6 separate regions of the Homo sapiens genome follow, and all the other regions are linked to region 1. Evidence: fine-mapped QTL for protein levels in blood plasma. A gene starts in region 1. Each other region holds a variant in brackets. All regions are shown on one strand. Distances are from middle to middle. Region 1 holds the start of CD86 (CD86 molecule). Region 2 overlaps GSK3B (glycogen synthase kinase 3 beta). Region 3 overlaps CD86 (CD86 molecule). Region 4 overlaps CD86 (CD86 molecule). Region 5 overlaps HCLS1 (hematopoietic cell-specific Lyn substrate 1). Region 6 overlaps CASR (calcium sensing receptor).

What was found. PIP is the posterior inclusion probability: the model's chance that the variant is causal. The UK Biobank Pharma Proteomics Project read protein levels with antibody pairs (Olink). The fine-mapping took linkage between variants from a reference panel, not from the people measured, so its PIPs are less certain.
Region 2: its variant is fine-mapped to the plasma level of the CD86 protein (UK Biobank, PIP above 0.99).
Region 3: its variant is fine-mapped to the plasma level of the CD86 protein (UK Biobank, PIP above 0.99).
Region 4: its variant is fine-mapped to the plasma level of the CD86 protein (UK Biobank, PIP above 0.99). The variant lies in the coding sequence of CD86. If it changes the protein, the assay may bind it differently, which can mimic a change of level.
Region 5: its variant is fine-mapped to the plasma level of the CD86 protein (UK Biobank, PIP above 0.99).
Region 6: its variant is fine-mapped to the plasma level of the CD86 protein (UK Biobank, PIP above 0.99).

What each region holds. Positions count from the first base shown.
Region 1 is chr3:122,053,384-122,058,460 of GRCh38, forward strand. CD86 (CD86 molecule) reads left to right here and starts at 1,979. Exons shown (of 7, transcript NM_175862.5): 1 at 1,979-2,120. The coding sequence starts at 2,107. It also overlaps a transcript of ILDR1 not described here.
Region 2 is chr3:119,907,423-119,912,499 of GRCh38, forward strand. The region is part of intron 6 of GSK3B (glycogen synthase kinase 3 beta); the gene reads right to left. Among named protein-coding and RNA genes, the nearest start is that of NR1I2, 130 kb to the left of the region's middle. The variant A/G (reference allele first, on the strand shown) is at 2,609.
Region 3 is chr3:122,096,729-122,101,805 of GRCh38, forward strand. All of the region lies in intron 2 of CD86 (CD86 molecule), which reads left to right. Among named protein-coding and RNA genes, the nearest start is that of CD86, 44 kb to the left of the region's middle. RefSeq lists an enhancer at 4,332-4,521. The variant G/T (reference allele first, on the strand shown) is at 2,353.
Region 4 is chr3:122,106,553-122,111,629 of GRCh38, forward strand. It overlaps CD86 (CD86 molecule), which reads left to right. Exons shown (of 7, transcript NM_175862.5): 5 at 2,713-2,856. Among named protein-coding and RNA genes, the nearest start is that of CD86, 54 kb to the left of the region's middle. The variant T/C (reference allele first, on the strand shown) is at 2,782.
Region 5 is chr3:121,649,810-121,654,886 of GRCh38, forward strand. The region is part of intron 3 of HCLS1 (hematopoietic cell-specific Lyn substrate 1); the gene reads right to left. It also overlaps the pseudogene RN7SL172P. Among named protein-coding and RNA genes, the nearest start is that of HCLS1, 8.6 kb to the right of the region's middle. The variant T/A (reference allele first, on the strand shown) is at 2,365.
Region 6 is chr3:122,264,043-122,269,119 of GRCh38, forward strand. All of the region lies in intron 4 of CASR (calcium sensing receptor), which reads left to right. Among named protein-coding and RNA genes, the nearest start is that of CSTA, 59 kb to the right of the region's middle. RefSeq lists a silencer at 1,045-1,146. The variant G/A (reference allele first, on the strand shown) is at 2,545.

The sequences.
Region 1 (5,077 bases):
GGAAATAAATTTTGAGATAATTTGTTATACAGCAATGGATAACTAATAAATACTAAAAACTCCTAAATGTATATACTAAATATATTAATTAGAAAATTGTAATATAAAAATACTAAAAGCTAAAACTGTCTGATATTAGGAAGATAATTTTACTACAATATATACCTTTTTTGTGTGTATGAGACAAGGTCTCATTATGTTGCCCAAGATGTTCTCAAACTCCTGGGTTCAAGCAATCTTCCCACCTCAGCCTCCTGAGTAGCCAGGATTACAGGTATGTGCCATTACAGCCAGCTTTCACAGTGTATACTTGATGTACTATTAATGTACTATTTAATGACTACTAAAAAGTTTATGATAACAGGAGAAAATGCTTATGCTATCTTAAATAAAAATTTGAGTGTATGCATTGATACCAAGAAATGGAAATTTGAGTGTGTACACTGCTACCAAGAAACTGAAAAATGACATCCCATACCTTTAATATTTAATATTTATAACAAATGAGGTTTACATGGATTTTTTTATCTCATCTTATTTCTGATGTGTTATGTAGTTATAAATACTATTTTATTTGCACTCCTGCTCTGCAATAATTTTGAAGATAGATAACTTATATTATTGCTGTCTTCATTTTTTAAAATTCTCAAATCCAGATGAAATTATCAAAGTTGATAAAATAATCATTGTTCTATCTTCTTATTTGAAGATTAATAATTGTGTTGATTTTGCTTCCTTGCTCTAGTTAGCAGTGATGTCATCTGCTATTTTTAAACTTCCTTGAAATAATATATGTAATCTACTTCTAATAAGTTTTTCTTATTTAGCATTTTGGTCTAAACTAATTTATAATTATTTAGCCTTATTTCTCCATGTTTAACTTGCTTTAAAGCTCAGCACTGGTGTTTTCAGCCATGGCTTCTCCATTTTAAGGCTATTTTAATTCATTTATTATTCTGGAATATATCCTTAAATAATTTATTTAGGAAGGCTGTCTTGGTGGTGGTATTTCTGTTGCAGTTGTTGTTTTCTTGCCTGCTTGGTGACATATTTCTATTGACTTGACACTTAACTGGCATCTTATCTAGGTAGATAATGCTAATTCAAAATTCTGCAGATATTGTTCTGTTGTTTTTTGCCATTTAGGGTTGAGTAAGATGCCAAGTTGTTTTTTGTTTCTCTGTAGTCATTCTGTTTTCATTTTGTTTTTAGCTTTGCCTTTGGAATTTAAAATGTTCAAAATGATTTGTCTGGATGAGAATCGATTTTCATAACTTTTGCTTTGATACACTAAACAGTTTGAGTTTCTAGATGATGCCCATTTTAATTCATACGAGGAAATATCTTCTAGTATAGTTTCTGCTTGATTAATTCTATGTTTGTCTCTTAGGGACATCTATTAATTTTATAATGCTGCCTTTTTTTCAGACTTCTGTTTCAGAATATTCGCTTTCATCAATGTAATCCTTGGCTATAGTAGGAATGAAATAATAAAAGCAGTAGCTTCTGTCTGCCCTCCTTGGTTATGCAGTCCTTACAGAACATCTCCCCATCTCCCATCCCCCCACCCCAGCTCAGTGAAACTCTCCACACTTTGGTTGTGGAAATTGGCAGGGTTAGGTGGCTACTCACTCCCAATCCACATCCACAATAAATCACTTTTTATTATCTTATCAAAATCTGTAGAATGCCTCTTTATTCTATTTTGTTGCTGCGGAGGTTTGTTTTCTCTTTCTAATTATTTTATTTTCTAGGTTTTTTGAGGGAATTTCAAGAGGGGAGATTTTTTATTCAGGCTCATCTTAACGTCATGTCTGGAACTCAAGCTACTGAATTATATATTCTTTAATACATATAGACCTACGTCAATGAGTTTAAACTGCAAGGAAAGGGTTAAATTTCTTCCTCAAGTGTGGTCAAAATCTGTAGAGAAAAGAGGAACAGCTTCTCTTAAAGAAAGTTAGCTGGGTAGGTATACAGTCATTGCCGAGGAAGGCTTGCACAGGGTGAAAGCTTTGCTTCTCTGCTGCTGTAACAGGGACTAGCACAGACACACGGATGAGTGGGGTCATTTCCAGATATTAGGTCACAGCAGAAGCAGCCAAAATGGATCCCCAGTGGTGAGTAATAATTCTTATTCTTTGCAGAGAAGTTATGAGTTGTGACTGCAGTGAAAGGCTGAGGTTGAAGATGGTGCTTTGATGTGTGTCCTTCACTTAGTTCCTAAGTGGAGAAGCTTTCTTTTTCTACAAAAGATCTTTGGCACATAAAGGCAAGAATTATTTGCAATGCCCAAAGCAGTTCATTGGTGGTAGTTATATATATTTTTAGGTGCCTAATTTTGGTTTTGTAAATCTGTTATTCAAATACTGAATGTTACAGTCATTGATTTTAGTGAAGAATCAGGAATTTTTAAAATATCTGCATAAGAATGACAAATAACAGGGAATATGTTTTTTGTCTACCAGGGTCAGTTTGGTCTGAGGGTGGAGGAATGAGATAGAGAAGGTAGAGGGAGAGAGATCAAGAAAAAGAAAGAGAAAAAAGAGGTATAAGGAGAAAATGCAAAACTCAGTTAATATGTCATAATCAGGCCATGGGAGATTCTGGGCAGGGTTGGGTAGTGGAAGGAGGTAGAGTGATTAAATTAGTTACCATGTATTGAACATGCATGATGTGCTGGGTACTTTACTAGTGCTATTTCATTGAATTTTATTCTTCACAATGACTTTTGGAAAGACATCATCATTCTTTTTGACAGATGGGGTAACTGTGGCTTAAAAAACTTGCCCAAGTTCACACTATTCATAAGGGGTAGAGCTAAAATCTTTCCTGCCCGCTTCGTGGTGCGCCAGAAGGTTTCTCCATGCTGTGGAGACTTCCTGGAAGGAGTCACACCCGCCCTTCTCTTGGGTGGTGGCAGCTGGCGCCAGTCACTATGTATTTATTTATTTTTAATTATTTATTTTTGAAACAGAGTCTCGCTCTGTCGCCAAGCTGGAGTGCAGTGGCGCAATCTCAGCTCACTGCAACCTCCGCCTCTCGGATTCAAACGATTCTCCTTCCTCAGTCTCCTGAGTAGCTGGGACTACAGGCGCCCACCACCACGCCCGGCTAATTTTTGTATTTTTGGTAGAGACGGGGTCCACCATGTTGGCCAGGATGGTCTCGATCTCTTGACCTTGTGATCTGGCCACCTCGGCCTCCCAAAGTGCTGGGATTACAGGCGTGAGCCACCGCGCACCCGGCCGTCACTATGTATTTATAATTACTGTTCTTTGAAAATCGAAGTAACTTTCATCTACCCAGTGCTTACTGGTTTGAGAAAAAGCTTTGTTGCTTTTATTTCAGAAGATTAAAATTTAATTTTCCAGTAAAGATTCCTTTTGCTCCAGTGGAATTTTGAAGCGTTATACTTGTATGAAGAAAAAAAGAATTTCAAAATTTATAATTTTTGTGGTACCATAGAGGGGATACTACTTAATTATGCTAGCACTGTCTGCAGAGGTCTAAAAAACCATAGGCTGCTGTCTATATTGAACTTGTTAAGATTCCTTTTGTTTCACAGTGCCTGAAGATTGGTCATGAACCAGTAATAGCCATTAAACAATGTCTGTTCTCATAAGAGATGAAATAAATACAAATTAAAACAACAGTGAAGTATCATTTTTTCTCTATCAAAGAGATAAATATTAAGTTTTAAAAAGCAAGCAATCAAGAACCCTCTATCTTGCTAAGAAGGGAGGATTATTTGTACCCTAGTTGCGCACTAGTGGTGATATCATCTTTCTGGACAATAATCTAGTGATACATATCAAAAGCCTTTAAAATGTATATGCCCTTTAACCAAGCAATTCACCTTTTAGGAATTTATTCTAAGATATAATAATACATGTTTGTAAAGTTTTAGTGATGGATATTTTTCTTGCTATTGTTTCTAATAAGGAAAATCTTAGAAACAATTTACGTGTTTAAAAACAAGTGATTGGATGATTATGGAACATCCATAATGGAATACCATGTAATTATTTAAAATTCCACTGTAGAACAATTCATAATGTGTTTAGTTAAAGGGGAAAAATGCAGAACGAACAGTGCTATCACTTTTATACATGATACATGTATACAAACAATATTAATCAGAAATATAGGTAGTTTGTATTTTCTACTGTGTGCTTTTCAATTTGAATCCCATCTGTAGGCAGAAAAATAAAGTTAAATATTTAAGATTTAAAAAAAACAATAGCTGGTTTTTTTCAGAGAAGTAACCATCTAGTGATGTGTGATAATTTATAAGTTGTGAGATTCCATAGTTAGGGCTTTAGCCCTTTGCATTTATCTTTCTTCATCTCTTGAATCCTCTTCAAAATACACCCACTCTACCCATAACTCATTAGATCTTGAAAGGCATGTTCTGATAGAATTTTATATTTAGAACAGGCTGCAGCACTCTTCCCTTATTTTACAGAAGTGATTGCATGGCTCTCTAGGGTGAGTTGCATATTGAGAGGGAGGACAGTGCAGTGGCTAAGTGGCCGCACATTGAAGCCAGGCTGCTGGGGTTTGAATACCAGTTCCCCAACTTCCTAGCTATGTGATTTTGGACAAGTTGCTTAACCATTGTAATTCCCAGTTTCTTGTCTGTAAAATGGGAGTATGGTAATATGTCGTAAAGTAGTTGTGAGATTTTAATGAGATAATCCATATCCTGCTAAGTACTCAGGAATTGTTAGTAGTTTTTATTACTATTACTGTTTGGATTAAGAAACAGAGGAAAAGTGATTTGTCCAAGATTATACAACCACTTAATGGCATTACTAAGAACAGAATGGAGGAAGGTTTTTTCCAGCAGAAATGTTCAGTATCCTCTGTGCCTGGCAGGACAACCCCAAGTTGTGCTTTTGGGATGGAGGAGCTGATCTAAAACAAGCAGTACCCAGGACAAGGCCAGCCTCCAGGGAGTGACTGATGACAGTGGGAAGCCAAATGGTAGAAAGGCAGGTGAAGTTAAGGAAACTGAGAGTCAACTTAGGAGCAGGAATGAAGCCTGGAGCAAAGAGCTAGTGCAAGAGAGAGC
Region 2 (5,077 bases), 2.1 Mb before region 1:
GGTGACAACTATACTAGCAGCCCTCAATTCATGTTACATCAGTCAAGTTAGTAAAAACAAGGTACTTATCAATCACTTTCTGGAGGACACTAAAATCTCTTCTGCTCTTACTTCAAAGGACAAATGGATGAAATTCTCCAGATAGAATAAAACTTCAACTAAATAGAAGGTACCGGAAAAATAGAAATAGTGCTTTGGCACACTGAATTTTAGTTAGTTGGGGTTAAAGCCAGAATAGCATTTTGTTTCATATTTAACTCGGGTTCATGTTAAAGTGATCTTTCAAGACCATCTAGTTTAACACACTTATTTCATAGATAAGGAAATTAAGACATGATAAAGTTAAACGACTTGCCCAAGGTAAAGGTACTGAATAGTAGAGCTAGGCCTGGAATCATTCTCAATTCCCAATCAAAACACCACTCTCTTGAATAACTGTCTCACTGTCACAGAATAACAGCTTCTTCAAGGGTCTGTCTGTAAGTTCAATTCCTTGTTCTAAGGAAGCCTTTTGTTCTCATTCTGCCATTTGTCAGTAAGATAATATAATCAGAGACATCAGCTTTACCTCTGGCTGTATCTAAATATGACAATAATCTTGTCAGAAACAGTTACTCTTTCATTTCAAACATTACTGTTAAAAACATTTAAAAATGTAACAATATTAGTATACTTTTTGGGAGGGTCTGTTTAAAAACATTACAGTCTTAAGAGGCAAGTATCCTAAGTTTATAATGGGAAGCCAAACCTAGGCTTGCTAGGGTTCAAAAGACTCCTGTTTATATAACTGTTCCTTAATGTGTGAGATGATGTGTTAACTTTTTGAGAACAATCAAACTGCCTTTATTTTAGGTGTTTCTGGCACAGCTCACACCAGTATCTTATATACAGATAATCAGTATCATATATTTGAATAAAATGTAAAGCAGCTGGAAAATCCAATGACATACCCAAAGACAAGGGGCTGAAATTTGCTCTTGGGGAGAGTCAAGTCTAAAAATGCCACAAAAGAATACCACCTTTCATTTCTACAGTATTTTCACTAACATTTTATTTAAGCCTCACAGCCACTCAGAAAAGAACTGTCAGTAATCTCCACTTTACTTCAAGTGACCTGACACTCAAACCCAGGTCGACCACAAGCAAAATATTCTTTGTACTATTTTTCATCTGTCCATTCATATATGCCATGTACCACAGCCATACTAAGACTCTGAGAATTACATACACATACATATACACATTATTATGCTCTCTACCCTCTGGTAAAGCAGATGTCAAAGTGTGGTCTACAGAGGACACTTTGTACTCTTTGCACCTGGGTCCTCTAGACATTTCTAGATGTCCCAGAGGGCAAAACTCTTTTCATAAGAATACACCTTCACTGGGTTAACATTTGTACTGAGGGTACAAAGGAAATGGTGGGTAAAACTGCTGGCCTCTTGGCAGAAATCAAAATGTGCTTTGGCATTTTGCCATTTGGCAAAATAAAAAATGATAATGTGTTTCTGATTAGGGTGTTTGCTTGTATCAGAGAATTTCTATTTATATCAAAAAGACAAAAAAACTGTCACAAGGTCTGTTCTATTTTTTGTTGTTGCTGTTGTTGTTTTGAGAGGGGGGGTCTCATTCTGTCACCGAGCTGGAGTGCAGTGGTGGAGTCTCAGCTCACTGCAACCTCTGCCTCCTGGCCTCAAGCCATCCTCCCACCTCATCCTCCCAAGTAGCGGGGACTACAGGGGCATGTCACCACGCCCGGCTAATTTTTGGTAGTGACAGGTTTTCACCATGTTGCCCAGGCTGGTCTCGAACTCCTGAGTTCAAGTGATCTGCCCACCTCAGCCTCCCAAAGTGCTGGGATTACAGGTGTGAGCCACTGCACCAGGCCAGGTCTGTTTTTTGTTTGTTTTGGTTTTCTGTTACTGTGGGGATGTTTTTGGTTTATTATTTGCATGCTTTTGTTTGTTTCTGGACTAAAGGAATTCTCTTCAGAAACAATATGTAAGAGTAAAATAATTTTGGTTTCCACTTGCACATCCAGCTTAAAGTTGCTCCTTGTTTGTTAGCTTCCTATTCATGTCCAGCTGATCATGCTCTCTCTGTTCACTCCTGGCTAGTGGGCTAAGATGTAGTAAAAGAGAAGGTCAATAATGATTAAAGCTAATGGTCTCTATTCAGTTCCTTCTATCACTAAACATCTTGGGTGACGACTTGAGAAGGTCAATGATGATTAAAGCTAATGGTCTCTATTCAGTTCCTTCTATCACTAAACATCTTGGGTGAAGACTTGAGAAGGTCAATGATGATTAAAGCTAATGGTCTCTATTCAGTTCCTCCTATCACTAAACATCTGGGGTGAAGACTTGAGAAGGTCAATGATGATTAAAGCTAATGGTCTCTATTCAGTTCCTCCTATCACTAAACATCTGGGGTGAAGACTTGAGAAGGTCAATGATGATTAAAGCTAATGGTCTCTATTCAGTTCCTTCTATGACTAAACATCTTGGGTGCATACTTCTGCAGAATCAGTGCATCTAGCAAAACTACTAGTGATTTAAGCTGATTTTATATTAAATAATGGAGATGGCATGAAGGAAATGTTAGCAAT[A/G]TGGCCATACTATCACTTTCATTATTAACTTAATGAAATAACATTAATTAATAAATTATCCAACTAGTATAATCATGCTCAGAAGTATTTCAGGAGGATTTTAAATAAGAAAGTAAAAAAAAGTTACTTAGAATTAATTTAAATTCTTAAGGTAAAAGCTATTAGCTTTATGATTCTAACAGTCCAAGGAAGAAAAATAGAATAGTAGGTATACCTTAAATTCTAAAAAGTAGAATTTGAAAAATTCTATACAGGCATACGTCAGAGATGTTGCAGAACTGGTTCCAGACCATAACAATAAGACACAATAAAGCAAGTCTCACCAATTTTCTGGTATCCCAGTGCATATAAAAGGTATGTTCACTCTATACTGTAGTCTATTACTTGTATAATAGAATTGTATAAAAACATAAATGTAATACATTAACTTAAACACACTTTATTACTAAAAAAAAATGCTAATGATCATCTAAGCCTTCAGTGAGTTGTAATCTTTTTGCTGGCAGAGGGTCTTGCCTTGATGTCGATGGCTGCTGACTGATCAGGGTGGCAGTTGCTGAAGGCTATACGATGTGGCTGGAGTAATTTCTTAAAGTGACAATGAAGTTTGCCACATCAACTGACTCTTCCCTTCATGAAAGATTTTTCTCTAGTAGGAGATGCTCTTTGATAGCATTTTACCCACATTAGAACCACTTTCAAAATGGGAGTCAGTCCTCTCAACCCCTGCTGCTGCTTTATCAACTACAATTATGTAATATTCTAAATCCTTTGTTGTCATTTCAACAATATTCACAGCGTCTTAACCACTAGTAGATTCCACCTCAAGAAACCACTTTCTTTGCTCATCCATAAAAGAAGCAACTTGTTTATGTTTCATCATGAGATTGCAGCAGTTCAGTCACATCTTCAGGCTCCACTTCTAATTCTAGTTCTCTTGCTAGTTCCACAACATCTGCAGAGACTTCCTTCACTGAAGTCTAGAATGCCTCAAGGTCACCCATGAGGCTTGGAATCAACTTCTTCCAAAATGTTGTTCATGTGATTGAGTCACAAATGTTCTTAGTGACACCTAGAATGGTGAATCCTTTCCAGAAGATTTAAAATTGACTTTGCCCAGATCCATCAGACTAATCACTATCTAGGGCAGCTATAGCCTTACAAATGTATTTCTCAACCTTTGGGTGACCAGTTGCACTGTCCATAAGCAGTAATATTTTGAAAGAAATACTCTTCTCTGGAGTAGTAGGTCTCAGCAGTGGGCTTCAAATATTCAGTGAACCATGCTATAAACAGATGTGCTATCATCCACTCATTGTTGCTCCATTTATGCAGCACAGGCAGAATACATTCAGCATCATTCTTAAGGGCCCTAGGATTTCTGGAATGGTAAATGAGCAGTGGCTTGCACTTAAAAGTCACCAGCTACATTAGGCCCTCACAAGAGAGTCAACCTGTCCTTAGAAGCTTTGAAGCCAGGCAATGACACTTCTCCTCTCTAGAAGAAGTCTTCCATCTCTAGAAAATCTAGAGATGAAAGTCCTAAACGGTATCTTCTTCCAATTCAGTAGAAGGCTATTTGGTCTCCATTAAAACTCTGATGTTTAATGTAGCCACCTTCATCGATGATCTTAGTTAGATCTTCTGGATAACTTGCTGCAGCTTCTACATCAGCACTTGCTGCTTGCCTTGCACTTTTATGGCATGGTGCAGCTTTTTACCCTTAATCCTCATGAAATAACCTCTGCTACCTTCAGATTTTTCTTGTGTAGCTTCCTCACCTCTCTGTCTTCACAGAATTGAAGGGAGTTCAGGCCTTGCTGGGTTAGGCTTTGGCTCAAGTGAATGTTGTGGTTGGTTTGATCTATCCAAACCACTAAAACTTTCCCTGTAACAGCAATAAGGCTGTTTCACTTTCTTATCATTCATCTGTTCATTGGAGTAGCACTTTAATTTCCTTTAAGAACTTTTCCTTTCTGGTCACAACTTGGCTAACTGTGTGGCACAATTTCGATATGCCTTCCTTGCTCAGCTTAATCATTTCTAGCTTTTGATTAAAAGTGAAAAATGTACCTTTCACTTGAACACTTAGAGGCAACTGCAGAGTTATTAATTGGCCTAATTTCAATATTGTTGTCTCTCAGGGAATAGGGAGGCCTGAGGATAGGAAGAGAGATGGGGAATGGCCAGCTGGTGGAATATTCATAACATACACAACACCGATCGATTAAGTTTGCTGTCTTATATTGTTGTGGTTTGTGGCAAACCAAAACAATTACAATAGTAACATCAAAGACCACTGATCATAGATCACCATAGCAGATACAATGAGAATGTTTGAAATGTTGCAATAATTACCAAAATGTGACACAAAGACATGATGACACAAAGACATGAAGTGAGCACATGCTCTTATAAAACTAGTGTGGGCAGACTTGCTTGACTCAGGGTTGACACAAACCTTTGAGA
Region 3 (5,077 bases), 43 kb after region 1:
AGTTGAGCTGAGATTGAACTCACGCTGTCCAGAATCCATGCTATTAGTTATAATAGTGTACTGCCCTATAGCTTTCTGTTTCACAGCTACATGGCATTACTTTGTATGGATGTATCATTATTTGTTAAACCATTTAACTTATTTCCAGTGTATTGTTCTTATAAACAATGAATACCTGTGTACCTCTAATTTTGTGCACATGTATCTTTTTGTAGAATGAATTCTTAAGAAATTGAGTTGCTAAGTCAATGCTTAAGCCCATAATTAATTTTCTTACATATTACCAACTGTCCTCCAAAAAGGTTGTACCAATTTAGAATTTTACCAGCAGTAAATTCAGCAGTTAGGACCCATTTTCCTAACACTCTCGCGGACACTGGGTATTACCAGTATTTTTTTTAATACGTGCCAATCAAATGGGCAAAAAGAATGGTTTCTCACTGAGGTTTAAATTGCATTTCCCTAGTTATTCTTGAGATTTTTCCTTTCCTTTCTTCAACAATTACTTATTGAGTGCTTCATATTTGTAAGGGACAATTGCAGGTACTGGAAATGTCACAGTGAGGAAAAGTGACAAAGCCCCTGCTGTCATGGAGCTTATTCTAATGGGAGATGTCAGGTGCTCAGCTGAGCTGGGAGAGAGAGAGCTGAGTTGTCAGGTGTCAGAGGAGCCAATTATAGCAGCAAAACAAAAATAAAATAGTTCAGCTTTTAATCTCTTACTACGACGGTATAATCAAGAGGCTAAAATGGGAGGAAGGGCAGACTCTGCCTGTTCCATTTCCCCACATAGAGTGAGTATACCAGTCGAGGGTCAGGTAATCAGTGCAGACTTAGGGGGTCGCCTTACCATTGAAGAAGCCCCAAATGAAAGGCTCTAGCAGTTTTATGGACCTGGGGGTGGAGGAATCCAAGGGTGGGGAGAATTCATGAGGAAAATGAGGTGAGAGGGCTAGGAGTGGAAAAGTACAAAGTACTGAGTTAGCGTGGGGAATAGTGTCTTTAGGGCTAGGAGTGGAAAAAATACTAGGTACTGAGTCAGAGTGGAAAACAGTGTCTTCAAGGCAGGGAGTGGAAAAGTGCTAGGTACTGAGTCCGAGTGGAGAAAAGTGTCTTCTCTATGATGAGGAGGCTTCAGCAGAGGTGCCTGAAGACCTCACCCCAGAGCCTCAGATAAAGAGACCTAAGAATGAGGGTGCCTGGGCTAAGATTGCAAGTATGTGAAAAAGCATGACTGGCGGGAGGCTGAGATCTTGATTGCAGCCCCCTTCAGAGACTGCCATGCACTGACTGTGCACCAAGTCTGCTGTAGAAAGGGCAACTTCCTCAGCAAGGCTTGTCAGATTAAGCCTCTTTAATTGCCTGTGGTCAGGTCTGAAAAATCACACATAGATTTTTAATCAGAACCCAGACATCTCAGGAGAGACAGACAATAACCAAACATACCGTGTCATGTCATGTCATGATAAGTACCACAATAAATATAAGTCAGCATGAGGGACAGAATGCCCAGGATGCTATCTTCAATAGAATGGTTAGAGAAATCTCCCTGGGAGGTAGCATTTAATGAAAGACCTACATGAAGTGAAGGAGAAGCTATGAGACTGTCTGGAGGAAGAACCTTCTGGACAGAGGGAACAACATGAGAAGAGGACTTGAGACAGAGTGTGTGATCTTTTGGAGGAATGTCAAGGGAGGCAGTGTGGCTGGGGAGAGTAAGCAGGGGAAAGAGGCCTGATAGGTACTGGGGACCCAATTACATGAGGTCTTGTAAGGCCAGGGGAAGGACTTTGGATGTAGTTCTCAGTGTGAGGGGAAGGGATCTGGATATATTTTTCAGTTTGGTGGAAGGCATCAGAGGCTTCTGAACAGGAGGATTATGTGATTGGAGCTGTATTTTTAAGGGATCATTTTGGCTTGAGAAACTAGACCCGGGGACAAGGACGGAGCAGGCAGATGAGTTAGGAGACAATTACATTAGTCTCCTCTACCCTTTTCTTAACATATTGGAGTTCAGCTCTGGCTGTAGTAGTTCTAGATCTCCTCAGACACACTTGTGTAGAGCCTCTGTTGGGTATTTTGGGTACACAAATGATTCATCTTGGTTATACAGATGATTTAGATGATTGTAGACAGAAGAGGGTTGTCTGGTCATTCCCAGACAGGGGAGCATTCCTTGAGATAGAGTAGAGGAAGGCTGAAGGGGAGGAAGACAGTACCTGTTGCTATCTAGATAGAGACATCCAGCAGGAAGTTGAATACAGGTATCTGAAACTCTAGTGAAAGTTATAGGCTGGCAATAAGCACCTGGGAGTTATTAGCTTTTACTTGACAGTTGAATCCGTGGGGCTA[G/T]AGGAGAAAAACCAGGAAAGTATGGAGAATAAGAAGACCAAGAACATGCACTCAAGGTTACCAAAATTAAAGAGTGATTTGAGAAAATTAACAAGGAAATCAGAGATTGGGAAAGAATAGAGCATTTCAATGAGGAGAGATGCCAACACTTGCATTTGACACAGCGGTCAAATGAGTTGAGATCTGAAAAGAGCTCAAGCCTTGGCCATGGTGTGAAGTCACCAACAACCTTTGTCAGGGAGTTTCAGTAGAGAGGTGGGGGTGGGAGGCTGGGAATAAAGGCAGCAATTGCTGCTTACTCTTTCAGGGAGTTTGACTCCAAGGGAAAGAGAAACTAAAAGCAGTAGCACAAGGTTTGTGTTTGAAGTAATGGAGGTGAACCAGGTGAATAGCCTGGAGGCCGAGTGAAGTGAGACAGGACACTGCAGATTTGGAATGTCACCAGTCCGCACAACTGAATAATTTCCTCCAGAACTGCTCAATTGCCCAGTTGTAAGAACAGATATGTAGACCAAAAGTAGAGTGTCCCCAGGGTAAATTTTATAGAGACAAAGGGGTGTGTTTATTGAAGTTGTGGAAAGGAATAATTACAAAGACATACTATTGTTGCATTGTCCAATATAATAACCACTAGCCATATGTGACTACTTAAATTTCAATTAATTAAAATTAAATAAGATTAAAAATTCATCTTCTCAGTCATACTAGCTATGTATCAATTGCTCAATAGCCACAGGGGCTGGTGGCTATCATATTGTTCAGCACAGAGACAGAGCATTTCCATTATCACTAAGAGTTCTTGTGGAAAACACTGCACTACAGGGTCTGGATAAAGCTGAGGTCTTGATTAAGTTGAACAACAGTTGTAGAAGGAGTAAGCAAGAGCAAAACCTGGATGAATAGGAGGTTGTGGACGGAGATTAGTATATTGAGATTAAGATTCTAGGGACTGAGCTGCTCCAGGTGAAAAGTTTCAGGGTTATGTCATAAGAAGGTGGGGGGCAGCTGCTGAAATAGTCTGCGGGTGTAGACCTGTGGAGTTGACAAGATCAAAGAAATTTGAGGCAAGGTTGTTAGACTCATTCATGAAGAAGTCACCCAAATTGTTAGCAAGACCTTGCATCTAATGCCAAAATCCTCATTTAGCAAGGTGGTAGTGACTTAGTAGCTACAAGCAATGAGAAAGTCAGACACCTCAAAAGGGGAAGGTGTTGCTCAAAGTCCCCACAAAGTGTGATAAAACAAACAGTAGCTGGGGCTGGAGCAAGTGGCTTCCTTTGGGTGAAGCCAGATTTCACTGAAATAATAACCTCAGGGAAACAGTCAATGAAGGGGTTAAAGATGTGGGAGAGTTTCCTTGTAGTAAGTAATGGAATGAGGCTTTCAAAGGGCCAAGTAAAACTTTGGAGGAAGTTTAGTAAAAGAAGGAATTTTTTTTAGTACAGATAAGCATAGGAACATAAAGAAGAGATAATTCTTAAACATATAAGATATGCATTTGGGGATAGCAGCCAGGGAACACTGAAGTCCCAGTGGGGTCAGAGACTTCATAAGGCTAGCAAATTACAGTTTTTGAGTGGCATTCCAACAGTAGAGTGTATTGCTCAGGAAGTCCTTAATTATCCTTTGAAACAAATTCCTTCAGCTGATTACGAAGGCATCTAGCTGGATTCTTGAGCGACTTGTTCCTGACATCATAGCAACCCATTGTAACTAGACTTCGACCATTCCTCTTACCCAAGTGCTGGGGAAGGGAGAGATTCTCAATGCTTACCCACCTATGGAATCCCAGTAAGTCCAGTTGCTAGGTGGCTTGAGGTCTGGGGTCATAAAATGGAAGGCCTGAAGTCATTTGGTGATCACAGACCTTGAGCCAAACTTTCCCCATTTAGTCAGAGAAAGGATTAGCAGCATCCCCCATGCCTGGCTCTGTGTGAGATCATGGAAGCCAGTGGTTGGTGAGGTGCTATGGAGTATAAATTGCAAAATACTTTCAGTTCCACTCAGAATGGATTTCAAAGTGATTTCCACCCCATGGGGAGGAGAGGGAGTCTGAGGAGGGATGGATGGAAAAAAAATTTTCATGTCATTTTCTGTGATCCACTCTGGAGACAGAGGCAGAGATTCTCTACAACAGCTGCTCAAACTATAGCTCTTGTTAAAATGGAGGTTCTGAATCAGTAAGTCTTGGGTGGGGCCAGAGATTCCGTGTTTCAGACCAGCCCACATGTGACGTGAATCTCATTGGTCCATACATCACACTTTCAGTTGCTAGGTGAAGAAGGGAGCACTCGATGAGTGGAAGAGAAAGCCGTTGTAATCTTTGGGAGAAGGGGCCTGGGTCAGCGGAGTTAGACTGGTCTGTGAGTGGACAGAATGGATGGGAAGGAAAGAAGATACTGTGAGGCTCTACAGAAAAAAAAAAAAAAAAAAATATATATATATATATATATATATATATGTAAATCAAGAAGACAGAAGCAGCTAAAGACGAAGTCATTTCCAGGTCCAGAAGGCACAACTGACAGCTGAGTAATAACATAACATTGACTGTTAATTGGCAGAATTTTTAACTGTGTGTTTGGTTTCTCCATCAGGTCATCTGTCCTATATTACATGACAATTTAGACTAAAACCAGTATTTCCTCAGAGACAATGCTAGAAGCTTTTACAGTAGGGGGCACTCTTGCATTACATTAAGAGCTCAGCAAAGAAGATGCAGAAG
Region 4 (5,077 bases), 53 kb after region 1:
TTAAGGCAGATCATCCAATGTCCCCGACTTGCTAGGAAACCTCCAACTGGGCCATTTTATGACGCTGTTAGGAAGGACCCAGATGGAGGTCTCCTGCTTCTCCTGAGTGATGCAGGGTCCAGGAGGCTACGAGCCTATGTTGCACTTGAAGAAATATGCTTTTAGCCCTGAAACTGACTCAGTCTCTTGGTTTACCTTTGGATGGAGGATTCTGAAGTTTTGATTTAAAAATACAGGATTCCTCCAGGCTAGAATTCTTTCTTTGATTACAACACATACATGCGCTTGCACACACACACACACACACACACACACACACCATGCATACATGCAGACATACAAATGATATTTATTGTGAGTATAGAACCATTTGGGACATTATTGGTCACAGGAGTGAAAACAAAAAGATATGACACCCCCTCTGCCCTTGAGGACCTTCCAATAGAATCAGAACCCTGTAATGTGCACACATGAAAAACTGGATTTTTAAAAGGTTGAATTGGAATCTAAATTTTATTCCATGGAAATATCTGACTAAATTTAAAATAAAAGTGACTGGTAATGAGATTTATGGGCATTCAGAGGTAGGCAAGATCCCTGAGGGTCAGGGAATGGTTCCTAAAGGAAGGGGTACCTTGTAACATGTAAAATAAATTATTGGGGTTAATAAATGTGGTGAGGAGGGGAGGGCATTCTGGATGACAGGTTCCCAAAACTGTGGTGACTTCCGTAGCTGAAAAAATTTGAGACAGTATCTGGGCTAAGCAGGTGAGAGGACCACAGTGGATCAGCTGTATCTGACGTAAGTGCAGGAGGTATGTCAAAGAAAGCCTTGGAGGCAGAAATGCTTGTGTGTTCACAAGTATTCTTCAGGGACAAGTTCAGTGGAGGAAAGGATTGAAACTAAGCAGTAGCCACTAATAGGAGCCTGACATTTTAAAGTCCTGGCTTTACCCAGGAGGGCATGTGTCTATATTTGACTCCTCTTTTAAGAAGCTGTAACTGCAAGATTCCCTCCTGGAATAAAGGTGGTCTGCATCTACCCTGTCCCATCACTGCCTGTGCTGACCTTGACACCCACATCTGCCTTCTTCTTACCTTGACCCCTTCTCCAGCGGTGATTTCTTGGCTTGCCCCCTCCAGTGACATCCATCCAACTCCTTGCTCCATACCCTGGCTTTGTCACCTCCTTTCTCCCAGTGTCTTGTTGTTCAGATATAACTTGGTCTGTGAACAGCCCACGGGGCCAGTCCCCATGAACCAACTTTACAACTGGGCCAATCTCATCTCCTGCTACTGACTTCTTCCTATTCAGACACTTCAGCCTCTGAGAATCCAGTAAATGGTGGAGCCAACTCGTCCTGTCCCAGTTGCTTCTCCTGTATCCTCTCTTGGCCAGATAGAAGCCTCTCCAAGCTATGCCTGAAGTTCAGTACCTCCTTCAATGTGTAATTAGTTTGATTGGTGGCCACAAGATGGCCATATATGACATGCCCCAGGGCCCTCTGTTACGGCTCCCATAGTCTACAAATTAACAGGGGCTTGCCACCACTATAACCTCATCATGGCTCACCTTCCTGCTGCTTCTCAACTACTGTTCTGCCAAACTTCAACAGGTACCCCCATCTTCAGAAATGTTTCAGCTCTAGCTGCCTCAGGAAGATGGGGCTTGCCTCTCTGGGTTTCCCATTCTATCGCTTGATCAGAGATAGGTTAGACCCTGAGTCAAGGGGCCTTTTTTGCATGTTAAAAGGTAGCAGCCTCCACGTTAGTAAGTATAACCCCTAACCCCCTTTACTGGGAGTGCCAAACTGGCTCAAGTGGAATAGACTGGGACAGACTCAAAAGGGATTAAATATGGCCTGCAATGCCAACAACTTCTTAACATCCCAGAAACAGGGCATGTGTCTACAAATTATAGCTAAGCTAATAGATCAGCTGGTCCTAATTTTCCTGAAATTTGGGATTAGCTACCAGAACTGTTCCCAAAAATGTCTTTAAAGTGGGCGACTCCGTTCTAAGTTTTCCCCACAAAGCCTGTTTTCCAACTCCCCAGAAACTTAGGAGTTCTCATGTAAGGAAGTAGTTCCTGAAGGCGTGAAGGTTCCTCAAGGCATGAAGAAACATCAAAGGTTTTTCAGTAGATGAGATATGCTGAAAGCCATGCAGAGGAAACCTGCTGTGACCTCAGTAGGAAAAAACTAAACAAACAAGCAAATGAAAACTAGAGGTAGGGGCCTGTGGAAGCTGTTCCATTTGTCCAAGTGAGAGGTGTCTGGAGATTATAGTGGACAGAAGAATCATCACGAGAGGAACTTCAGGGCCTGGGAACTGACTGCAGAGGGGGGCAGGATAGCAGGCACGGCACAAATGACTGCACGTGCAGAGCCTCAGCACAGACACCTCACCCAGATTCCAGAATCACGGGCCAGGCTGACCCTCTTCTTCCTGATCATGGTCGGTGTTATCCCCACCTCCATGAAGGCATGGCAGCTCAGTCCAGGCATTTGGCCAGAGGCATGGGCTCGATTCTTAGGTCGCTGCTGAGGCCCTGAGCCTGGGACTTTCTATGGCCTCCTATTGTGGATTTCAGGCTTCTCTGGCCTTAGAGCCCTGGGGAGAGGCTGGCAGGTAAATAAAGAGAAGAGCAGCTAGCAGAAACCTTTTGTAAATGACTCTCCTGGCTGATTGAAAATTTGTGGTCATTTGTAGAGCTTGAGGACCCTCAGCCTCCCCCAGACCACATTCCTTGGATTACAGCTGTACTTCCAACAGTTATTA[T/C]ATGTGTGATGGTTTTCTGTCTAATTCTATGGAAATGGAAGAAGAAGAAGCGGCCTCGCAACTCTTATAAATGTGGTGAGTGAGTCCTTGTCCTCCCCACAGACTGTCACTTTGCACCTACTTCCCAATCGGCTGGCTGCCTTCCGGAGCTTGTTGGCTGAGCCTAGACTGGCAAAAAGTCAGGAAGTTGTTGGGAAAAAAGGTTTTCCCTTGGAGTTTTGAGCCTATACAGACTGGCAGTAGCAGATAATGCTGCTCTTGGACTTCAAAGAAAGGCGACATTTCTAACCTCTGGTTTACAAATGTACTTCTGGTTTCCAGGGAAAACTGATTATTACTTGCTTTATCTACCTCACTTCATGAGGTTACTGTGACATATACATAAAGTAAAATGGTGAAACCACTCCTAAATGTTAAAGATTGTGGACCTGGTGGTGTTTAAGCAGGGATATTTGCTAAATGACCACAAGAATCAGCTTCTCGTCTCTAAAAAAATCTAGGTTTCTTATGAAATAAGTTAGATGAATTATTGCCCATTGACTTATAACAAACAATATTAACTTTAACTAATTTCTAAGTAATACATATCCATTATCATATATACCAAAAATAAAATAATCTATAACTCCACTAATAAGAAAAAATGATTACACAAATATTTTTGGTGCCTATCTTTAAGATTTTTCTGTGTATCAATCTATGTTGTTTTCCATAATTAGGATTATCATAAGGGTTATTTTTCACAATTTGGATAATATATGTACTGTGTTCTAATTTTGTTATACTAAATGTAGCAAGACAATTTTCAATGTCATAAATATCATTCTACAGCATCATTTTTAATGGCTGCAAGATATTCCCTTTTGTGGATACACCATAATTTATTTATTTAACCAACCTCATTTTTTGGACACTTGAGTTAGTCCAATAGTTTTGTTATTATAAACACCCTCCCCACTGACTTCTGTTATAAAAATGTTTCATGGGGACAAAGTGGTCCCTAACTTTATAATAATGCCATGCCTTTTTGTAGTTTGGTCTGGTTCTAAGCTAAGATTGGACTTTATCTCAGTAATTGCCTCCAGTAGTAATTAGTTTGATTGGTGCTAATAATTAAGGTAACCTTCTAACTCACTTATGGTAGAAAGCACAAGATGAGTATTGCCTCTGGCCAGCATCTTGTTTTTCAGTATACTGATTTTAAAATCTAACTAGAAAATAGATGGATGACATTAGCAGTCATTCAATGCATCCTGCTGTACTTTAAAAATAAGAAATTGGGGAGCAACGATCGAATTTAAATAAATTAACACAAAGCATGTGGCAGAGCCATTCAAACTGCCAATGTATGGAGTGTGCTGCGAGATTTCTATGATATAAAAGTATAAAATTCCTAGCACAGATGTAAAGACATATCATGCTTGTCCAGGCTTTGACTTTTCAAGGTGAGAGTTTTGAGCTTCACTTTCTTTCAACCTCATTGCCATTTAAAATTAGTCAAATATGAAGAAGTGACTTACATCTTGGGAATAAGCTGTTTGCTAGATTTTTCTTCACATTAGAATGATCAGCTTACAAATGAAACAAAGAAGGGTTGGAGAAAAAGATTAAGGATGTTTCTTCCTCCATGAGGCAATCAGAAAAAAATCAGGAGACTAGATAGGGGAGATAAAGAGGATATGTGTGTTCACATGAGAGAAGTTAGAAGGTGGTTAAATAAGCTCTGTAGGTACAGATGAGATGGTCAGATTGGGCTGAGTGGCACATACATGACCCCTAAGAATGTAATGAAGAATATTGGTAAGAAAAAGTTATTTATTCAGACAGTCATCCATGCCACTGAGTTTGATCAAAGAGAGAAGCCTTGCTATCACTGTAGGGAGGGAGGTGCAACAGGTATAACTATGCCATTATAGATATGATATATTTGTAAATTTGGATTCTGTAACTTCAGCAATATCTGCCATTGCTTTGTGGGTACTCCTGGCATTGGCTATGTGATAGGTAAAATAATGCCCCCCACAAGACGTCCACCTCCTATACTCCAGAACCTGTAATATGTTATCTTACATGGCAAAAGGAACTTCACATAGGTGATTAAGGCACCAAGCTTGAGATGGTGAGATTAACCTGGATTATCCAGGTGGGCCCAATGTAATCACATGAGTCAGAGAACCTTTCCTAGCTGGGATGGAGAAATGAACTGGAAGAAGGAGAGATCTGAAACTTGAGAAGCTCAACCCAGCATTTCTAGCTTTGAAGATGGAAGGAGGAAGCCATGAGCCAAGGAATGTAA
Region 5 (5,077 bases), 400 kb before region 1:
TGTAGCACCTCAAAGATGACTCATTCCTCAATCTGTGTTTGTTTTTTATTACAAAACTAAAAGCACAAATGTGAGTGACTCAGAATATAAGGTTTTTATTCACAGATGACCTGATCATGTATGTAGAAAATCCTAAAGAATTCACACAAAAAAAGCTACTAAAGCATTGTGCATTTGGCTAGGTCACAGGATACAAGGTCATTATATCAAAATCAATTGTATTTTTACATACTGGCCATAAACATTTGGAAACTGGAAGTTAAATATAAATACATGAAATAACATGAAACATTTTAGGATAAACTTAACAAAGTATGTGCAAGACCTAAACACTAAAAAATATTTCTGAAAATATTAAAGAAGATCTAAATAAATGGAGAGATATCCCATGTTCATGGATTGGAAAACTCAATATCATTAAGATGTCAGTTCTCCCTAAAATGATCTATAGATTCAATGCAATCCCAATCAAAATCTGAACAGGCATTCTTGTAGGAATTGACTAGTGAATTATAAAATTTATGTGAAAATGTAAAGTCCTGGAATAGTAAAATCTTTTGTTTCTTTTTTTTTTTTTAAGGAGAGCAAAGTTGAGGACTACATAATTTCTTGACTTATAAAGCTACAATAATCAGTGCAGTATGGTATGCTGTCAGGGTAGAAAATAGATCAACAGAACAGAATAGAGTCCAGAAATAGACCCACATGTATGTGGTCAAAGATGCCAGGTAAGTCAATGGGAACAGAATACTCTTTTAATATTGTTGAACAACTAAATAATCACATGGAGAAAAATGAACCTCAATCTTGACCTCACACTGCACAGAAAAGTCTACTTGAAATGGGTCATAGACTTAAATGTAAAAGCTAAAACTGTCAGTCCTTTAGGACAAAACATCAAAGAAAGTCTTCACAACTTTGGGGTAGGTAAATATTTCTTAGACACATAAAGCATTAGCCCCATAAATTTTTTTTCAATAAATTAGACATCATCAGGATTAAGATCTTTTGCTCTTAAAAAGATGCCATTAATAAAATGAAAAAGTGGCCAGGTGTGGTGGCTCACGCCTGTAATCTCAGCACTTTGGGAGGTCAAGGCGGGTGGATCACAAGGTCAGGAGCTCAAGACCAGCCTAGCCACTATGGTGAAACCCCGTCTCTACCAAAAATACAAAAATTAGCTGGGCTTGGTGGTGGGCGCCTGAGTCCCAGCTACTCAGGAGGCTGAAGCAGCAGAATCGCTTGAACCCAGGAGGCAGAGGTTGCAGTGAGCTGAGATCATGTCACTGCACTCCAGCCTGGGCAACAGAGCAATCAATCAATAAATAATCAATCAATCAATCAATAAAGTGAAAAAGCAAGTTATGTTCTGGGAGAATACACTTGTAAAACACATATTTCACAAAAGACTTACATCCAGAATATATAAAGAACTTTCAGCAACTTAATAAAAAGACAAACAACTCACTTTAAAAGTGAGAAAAAGATGTGAACAGATACTTCATAAAGAAGATATATGAAGATATATGAATGGCAAATGAAAATATACTCAATAAAACTGGTCATCAGAGAAATTCAAATTAACTTAAAAGAGTGGTTAAGTTGGTTTTGTTGTTGTTGTTGTTGTTTTGTTTTGTTTGTCTTTTAGAGAGGATCTCAGTCTGTCACCCAGGCTGGAGTGCAGTGGGGCAAACATGGCTCACTGCAGCCTCAACCCCCTGGGCTCAAGTGCTTCTCCTGCCTCAGCCTCCTGAATAGCTCAGACCACAGCCAGCCAATTTTTAATTTTTTTGTAGACTCTGAATCTCTCCACATTGTCCAGATGGTCTTGAACTCCTGGGCTCAAGTCATCCTCCTGCCTTGGCCTCCTAAAGTGCTGGGATTACAGGCATGAGCCACTGCACCCAGCTAAATTTAAAAATACTAACAATAACAAATGTTGACAAAAATGTGGAGCATCTGAAACCCACACATTACTGGTAGGAATGAAAGAGGGTAAATTCCCTTTGGAAAAGAGTTTGAGAGTCTCTCAAAATGTTTAACATACACTTATTATATGACTCAGCAATTCTACTCCTGGCAATTTTCCAAGAGAAATAAGGATATGTCAACAAAAAGATTTGTACCCAAATGCCCATGACAGTTTCATTTGTAATAGATCCAAATTGTCAATAATCCAAATGGCTATTGACAGGATAATGAATAATAAAACTGTGACATATCCATACAATGGGACACTACATGACAATATAAAAGAACAAAAGACTTATATACACAACACCATGGATAAATCTGGAAAACATTATGCTGAAAGAAGACAACACAAAACAATACATTCTATATTATTCTGTTTGCATGAAATTC[T/A]ATGCCAGACAAAACTAATCTATAGTGACAAAAAGATCAGTATGGGGTGTATTGACTGCAAAGAGGTGCAGGGAAATTTTCATGGTAATAGATATATTCTATATCTTGATTGCATTGGTGGTTATATTATATATATATAGTCAAAACTCATTGAACTATTTGCTTATAATGATTAGGTATCAATAAATTTAATTTTTGCCTGGGCAATGGTGGCTTACACCTGTAATCCCAGCACTGTAGGAGGCCGAGGCAGGCGGATCACTTGAGGTCAGGAGTTCAAGACCAGTCTGGCCAACATGGTTAAACCCCGTCTCTACTAAAAATACACAAATTAGCTGGGCAAGGTGGCACATGCCTGTAATCCCAGCTACTCGGGAAGCTGAGGTAGGAGAATCACTTGAAGCTGGGAGGCAGAGGCGGAGGTTTCAGTGAGCCGAGATCGTACCACTGCACTCCAGCCTGGATGACAGAGCGAAACTCCGTCTCAAAAAAAACAAAGTTAATTTTTGAAAAATAATAAAGTGAAGAAAACCTTAAATGAAAGAGACTTTGGGCACTCATAAAGAGGTTTGTTTATGAAGTGATTGTAGTATTATTAAGGCCAACTTATCAAGTACTTTGTCACTGTAAACAGAATAGCAAGCAGCCTTAGGGAATTGGCAATAGCTTAGTTCATGGGAATTTGCATTTCATTTCAACAAAAGAATTACGGACATGACGATATTATGTTTATTAGACAAAAACAATATATTGGTTAAGATTTCAGCCCATGGAGTCAGACTGAGCCGAATTCAAATTACTACAGGTTGACTATCCCTCATCCCAAACGCTTGGGACCAGAAGTGTTTTGGATTCAGGATTTTTTCAGGTTTTGGAATATTTGCATATACATAATGAGATATCTTGGGGACGAGACCCATGTGTAAACAGGAAATTCATTTATGTGTCATATACACTATATTAAGGAAGGTATTAAAGAAGAACTAAATAAATGAAGGTAACTTTATTTTTCCCTTGGGGACGCTGAAAAAACTGTTGTGCACCTGTATTTTGACTGAGACCCATCACATGTAGTCAGGTGTGGAATTTTCTACTTGTGGTATCATGTGGGCTTTCAAAAATTTCAGATTTTGGAACATTTTAGATTTTGAATTTTTGGATTAGGGATGCTCAACCTGTATCTCTGTATCCTCGGACAAATTGCTAAACATTAATATATCCATTCACTTTTCTGTGAAATCAGGATGCCAACGTCATCTATGATATAGGATTGTTTTTAAAAAGTACTCTGTGTTTTGCAAGACATATAATAGCTTAATAAATGTTAGTCATTATTCTTAAGTTATAGCCATGGCTCTTCCCAGTACCCCTGTGAGGTAAACAGGGATGGTACTATAATCTCCAGTCAGCGCTGGAAATCAAGATAGGATGGTAAAATATTATTACTCTCCTCAGCATCATAAGCCTTTTTACAGCAGAGCTGGAATCAGTCCCTAGAGCTCCAGAATTCTATTTCTATACTCTTGGCATTACACCATTCTTTATTTCCACTTGCTATAAAATGTCAGGGCACGAGAAGAGGACAGGGCCACTGAGGCAGACATCCTATGGTTATAGCTCAGTAAAGATTTAATCTAAAGGCCAGACTGGTTCCAGGAAGTGCTGAAAGATTATTCCAGAGCAGTGCCACTCAGTGTGTGGTCCACAAGCTGAACTGTTTCTGTTTCACAGGGAAATAAGAATAAAAATTGAGAATATGTGTTTAGAAACTTTTATAGCAATTTGACATAGTGATTTTATTCTTTTTCTTTTTCTTTTTTAGAAATGGGGTCTCACTGTTGCCCAGGCTGGAGTACAGTGGCTACTCACAGACACAATCCCACTACTGATCAGCACTGGAGTTTTGACCTGCTCCATTTCTGACCTGGGCAAGTTCACCCCTTCTTAGGCAACCTATGGTCCCCTGCTCCTGGGAGGTGGGAGGTCACTATATTGATTCAGAATTCAGCGTGGAGACCCAATCAGCATAGAGCACTATAGCCCAGAACTACTGGACTCAAGTGATCCTCCTGCCTCAGCCTCCTGAGTAGTTGGGTCTATAGGCACAGACTAGCATGCCTGACAACATCGTGATTTTATATCTGTTGAATTTAAAAATAAAAACTGTGTTTGTATTGTCTATGTTATTTTTAACCATTTATTTTTCCAGAAACTTAATTGTATTTTATTTTACAAAAGTATCAGTCTGTGACAGATTTGAAAATAAACAAACAGGTCAAGGGAAAAGACACCCTTGAGTCTTGAGAATGAATGGGCAAGAGTGGAGAAAAGAAGGTGGAGAGAAGGGTGATAGTTCTTGAAAACCAGGCAGTTCCTTTACAGAATGGATAAGGGATGCATAGGACCATTTGAATTATTCACTGAATTACCAAATTACTATCCAAACTAAATTTATTCAAGACAGACCTAAAAAGAGACATCACGGTGTGGGGAAGGTAGTAAGATTAGTAAGAACTGCAACCACTTCCTTTTCCTGCTTTTAGTCGTCTCAGCTCTACAGCTACTGTTTTGTTTTGTTTGTTTGTTTTTTGTTTTTTCATTTTGGGATCTGTCAGTGTTAGCATCTACAGCTACTGTTCTCCTCTCCAATTTCCCTCTCCTTTCCAAGGACCATGGTGATTCCCATCAGATGTTAAAGACTGACTTAGCCCAC
Region 6 (5,077 bases), 210 kb after region 1:
CAATGGCTCCTCTTCCAGATAAGGAAATAAAATACAGATGGTCAAGACCAGACCTTGGACCTGTGAGAAAAAAAAAAAAGCCATGACAGGCTACAGTCACAACTGGGACTTTTAGTTGTGTAATAGAAAGCCCTAACCAAATTGGCATAAACAAAAAAAGAGGAAATGTAGTGAGTGGGTCATGTCACTAAAAATCTCAGAAGTGTTCCAGGTACAGCTAGGTATTTTCATCTCATCTTTCTGTTCTTCATTCCCCAGGGTTAGCAATTTTCAGCTTCTGTAGCAGCTTGAAGCTAGGATCTCCTTACTTCCCAAGATATCCTGTAAAAGTTCCAGAAACCACATTTATTGACCATTCCTAAGTCATGGATCCATCCCTGATGCTAGCAGTCCTCCAGACTACATAGACTTAGAGTAAGGGGGGAGTGAATCTCCAGTGGGAAGTCAGGATGCCATTACCAAAAGGAGGAAGAAATAGAAGCAAAGCAGCCAACATTCAAAATGTCCACTACACAGACACTTCACCCAACCATGGCCCAGGTAAAGATATGTTCTCCTGACTCTTACATGGTCTGGAAAAATCTCCCCAGGAGACAGCACAGATAGGAAAATGGGATCAGAACTCTAGGGAGGAATGACATGGGAAATTGGCCAAAATGTCCTGAGTGCTTGGTGTGAGTCTCCTTTGAGCCTCAGGAACCCAGGCTGTTGGATGGGCGTTCCAGAATTTGAGGTCTTGGCCAGGAGATGAACTAGCAATTATTCATTCTCATTATTAAGACCTATATCTTCATCAGGAAATCAACTAGCAATTATTCATTCATTCTCAATATTAAGATCTATATGGAAACTTATCACCTATAATCTAATCCAAGTCTCCAGCTGGAACTCCATGTCTGCCTTCTCTCAGTTCTTCCCCTATAAGCCAACCTGCATGACACCTCCTCACAAATCACTCATTAGTTTTTGGCACAGCATCTTTGCATAGGCCATAGCCCACACCAGAAGGGCCATCAATTTTTATCTCTGCTGTCATTTTCCACCAGGAACATTTAAATTGTTTTCAAAATCCACTTTCCCCTGGAAGTCTTTTCAAATCGTATTCCCACAACACATTTTCTGATCATTCTCGCTTCCTCATTTTTGATGTTTATATACCCAGCTTAAGCTTCCACAGCTCTTTAATTGACTGAAATAGACACTTATTAGTTAAAATTCTGGTTATAAGGGTCAATCACAATTTTTTTCCTTTCTTTCTCCCCAAAAAAATATTTATCAGTCAACTCATATGCCTCAAAAGTAGCACTAGCAGGTGATTTATGAGCATACAACTCACAATTGCCTCCTGACCTCTTCTTGGAGACCCCCAAGCCCTCCTCACATCCCTTCCCAGCTCTCTCTTCACTACTCCTTTGCTGTACTCTAAGCTTCATAAGATCCAGAACCATGCCTGTATTGTTCAGTACTATGTTCAGAATGCCTGTCGCTGGAATATTCATTGAATGAATGAATGAGTGAATAGCAGTCTAGTTGATTTGACCTGTCAACACTACCTATAGGCCTTTGCAGGGAACCGTTTGAGCCAACAACCCATTCTTGAATCAATCACTGTGGCCAAGGTATTCTAGGCTCTGTTTGGACAAGCTTTGGTCACGTGCCCACTATCAAGTTTGAGTGGAACATCATGTAAGTATGAAATCACCTTCTTTCTTCTCTCAGGATGATCATGCACAAGGTGTGCTTCCTACTCTCCTGCACCTCACACCAACACTCACTAGTCAGAAAACAGGCGTGCAGCCATGGTGAAGATGGAAGTCAGATGGAGCTGATCTTTCTAGGAATTCCTGGTACTGCTGGAAGTTGGGGAATGGGGGATAAATTGTGAGGACAGCCAGAGAAGATGGAAGGGAGATAAGAAAACATGGCTGGCGTTAGAGAAGGGAATTGGGCCTGGATCTTCCCCATGCTCTTACCACAGGAACTGGGCAAGATAATGAACTTCATTATCTTGTTCATTATCTGTGTGACCTGGCCCTCATTATCTGTATAAGAGCTGGAAGTCCTAGACCAGAGTGGGGGGGTTTCTAGTCTCTAATGTTCAGTTTAATTCAATTGACGCTACTAAGAATGTGTGCCAAGAGGTGATTTCCATTTATGCTTATAATGAGCAACCGTTTGACTTTAAAATCTTTTAGGGGAAATACCCTAAAAGACCACAAGATGGGAATATTATGGCATAAAAGAGTATGTTAGCTTCTAAGTGCATGCATGTCCTGTATTTGCCCCTCTTTTAGATCTATGTGTCTTTCTTGGTGGTGTTTTCTTTGTGAGCCTGTAAGTCTCTTTGTGTCTGTATGTTATGTTCTATGTTCAGATCTTTTTGTTTGTTTGTGTTTTGTTTTTTTGAGGCAGAGTCTTGCTCTGTCACCCAGGCTGGAATGCAGCGGCCCGATCTTGGCTCACTGCAAACTCCGCCTCCCAGGTTCAAGCAGTACTCCTATGTTTGGATCTTTCTACTAGCTTTTTTTGTTTCTCTTCCCCTTC[G/A]TTTATTCTTTTTCCTCATATTACTCCCCAAATAAAATAAATAATTTGGAAGCATATAATATTGGATAATAATCTCAAGTAAAATTTTATATTTCATTTTAAAAGGAACTGTCAGTTCCTTTTTAAAAGCAAAAGAAGCCAGGGGCAGTGGCTCACACCTATAGTCTCAACACTTTGGGAGGCCACAGTGGGTGGATCATGAGGTCAGAAGTTCGAGACCAGCCTGGGTAACGTGGTGAAACCCTGTCTCTACTAAAAATACAAAAAATTAGCCGGGTGTGGTGGCAGGCACCTGTAGTCCCAGCTGCTCAGGAGGCTGAGGCAGGAGAATTGCTTGAACCTAGAAAGCATAAATTGCAGTGAGCCAAGATCGCACCACTGCACTCCAGCCTGGGCAACAGAGCGAGACTCCGTCTCAAAATAAATAAATAAATAATAAAAAGAGTGTTCTCTCTCGGGCAGATATCTAAATTATCTTCTAACTTATGTTGCTTTTTTTGTGGATCAATCATTATCAATTTAAAGATTCCCTGTCATTGCTCTTAGGAGTGAAATGGTTTTCATCTCCATCTTCCCTGTTATGTGAATTAAAGGCAAGATATTATGCAGAAAATAAAACGCCCAAATGCAAAACTTGCAAGTCAGCCTGCCAAAAGAAATATTAAAGATGTTTAAAGAGGTGACTTAGAGATATGACTTGGTAAGCATAATAATTTATTGATTATAAGTGGATAACGTACAAATTTTGAGTAGAAAATATTCCACACTCATGTGATTTTATTTATATACCTGCTGTGAGGACATAGTACAATACAATTCAGGTTAGGATTTGAAGTAAGGAAAAAAAAATATCATTTGAGACGAGTCTTGAAGGGTAGATAAAATTTGTGGATACGGAGAAGGATCTACTCCTTGGAGGAAAGGTCACAAAATGTCCTGCTAAGCAAAAGAATACTGACTAAAAAAAAATAGTACATAGTGTATGATTTCATTTATGCGATACTCTGTCTCTACTGACAGAAAGAAAGCAGATCAGTGGTGGCCTAAGGCTGCAAGTGGGTAGAGGTTGACTTTCAGGGACACCACAGAACCTTTTGGGAAGGTGGCAGTGGTAGTTACCAAGCATATACATTTGCCCAAATTCAGAACTATACACTTAAAATGAGTGTATATAAATTATACCTCAAAAAAGTTGATAAAAAAAATAACGGAAAGTCCCCAGGTGGGGAAGTCCTGGCTACTCATGGAGATCAGGATGTCATTCAGGTTAGACCATTTTCCCACTTATGGCCCCTCATGTTGCCACAAGCATTACACATCTCTACCATTTCATTTTTAAAATATGTCCATTTTCTCAACCTACATTTTATACCAGTTAACCTGTTGTAACTAGAGATAGGCAACTTAATAGATGTCTAATTTCACTCCTGCATGTGAGTAGGTAGTATAGTGTAATGGTTAACAGTTTGGAATCTCAAGCCAGACTGAGTTGGTTTAAATTTTAATTGCCACCTAATTGCCTTATGACCTTGGGCAGTCACTTAGTGTCCTTGTGCCTCACTTTTCTCTCTCACCTGAGAAATAGAGATCATGAAACTTGTTAAGTTTATTATGAGGATACCATTACTTAATATGCACAGAGTGCTTAGGATAGTGCCTATATACTATGTGCAGTAAATATTAGTCTTGAGTATTATTCTTTTGTAGGTGAGGAGGGTAAGACCCAGAGAAGTCAGAATGATTTTCCTAAAGTAATATATCTAGCTAGTAAAAAAGCTACATCTGCTCCAGGTGATCTGTTCCCCAAAGAGGCCAAAGGAGTTGCTAAAAGAATGACTTTTGCCCTCTGGGCACCACATGCCTTCTAGCTCCTGAGAGGCTGCCAGATCAGCCAGTGGTTTCCAAGTGAAGACACTGGTCCACTGCCTTGAACCCTGGGTGTTCAACAATTGTCCTGACACCTCGGTCCTTACACAAAGAGAAAGTATAGTGTGCAAATAATTGAGAGTGCACACAGCCAACCAGGTTGGAGTCTATTAGACATCTCTGTCCATCTTGAATATTACTGTATTTCTTCTTTCTAAAACAGTGCCTGCTTGGCCAGTAGTGGTCCCTCAATAAATACTTGTTGAATAAACAAATGAATAAAGAAAGAAAATGGGACAAAAATAACTCCTGAGAGGACAGTGGAGGACAGTAACACAGTACCTAGATACAGGCACAGATAAGGGAGGTCAGTGATCTCAGAGAAGTGGTCAGAAAACTCTCACACAAGAAACCACAGTAATGCTGACTTCATAAACTGGGGCTGGAACTTAGCTCTGCATTGTTAACAAAGTAAATTACATGAAGGAAAGCATGTTTTGGTAAGGATTTTAAGAGTATAAACAGGGTTATTGAGGCATAAAGATCCAGAAACCATTAAATTTTAAATTATTCTTGTATTTTTAACTGATGTAGGCCTCCTAAGAATCTTTATCAGGAACAATTTATTAGCCTAATTTGTACTAATAAATATGCCTAAAAGAAGAAA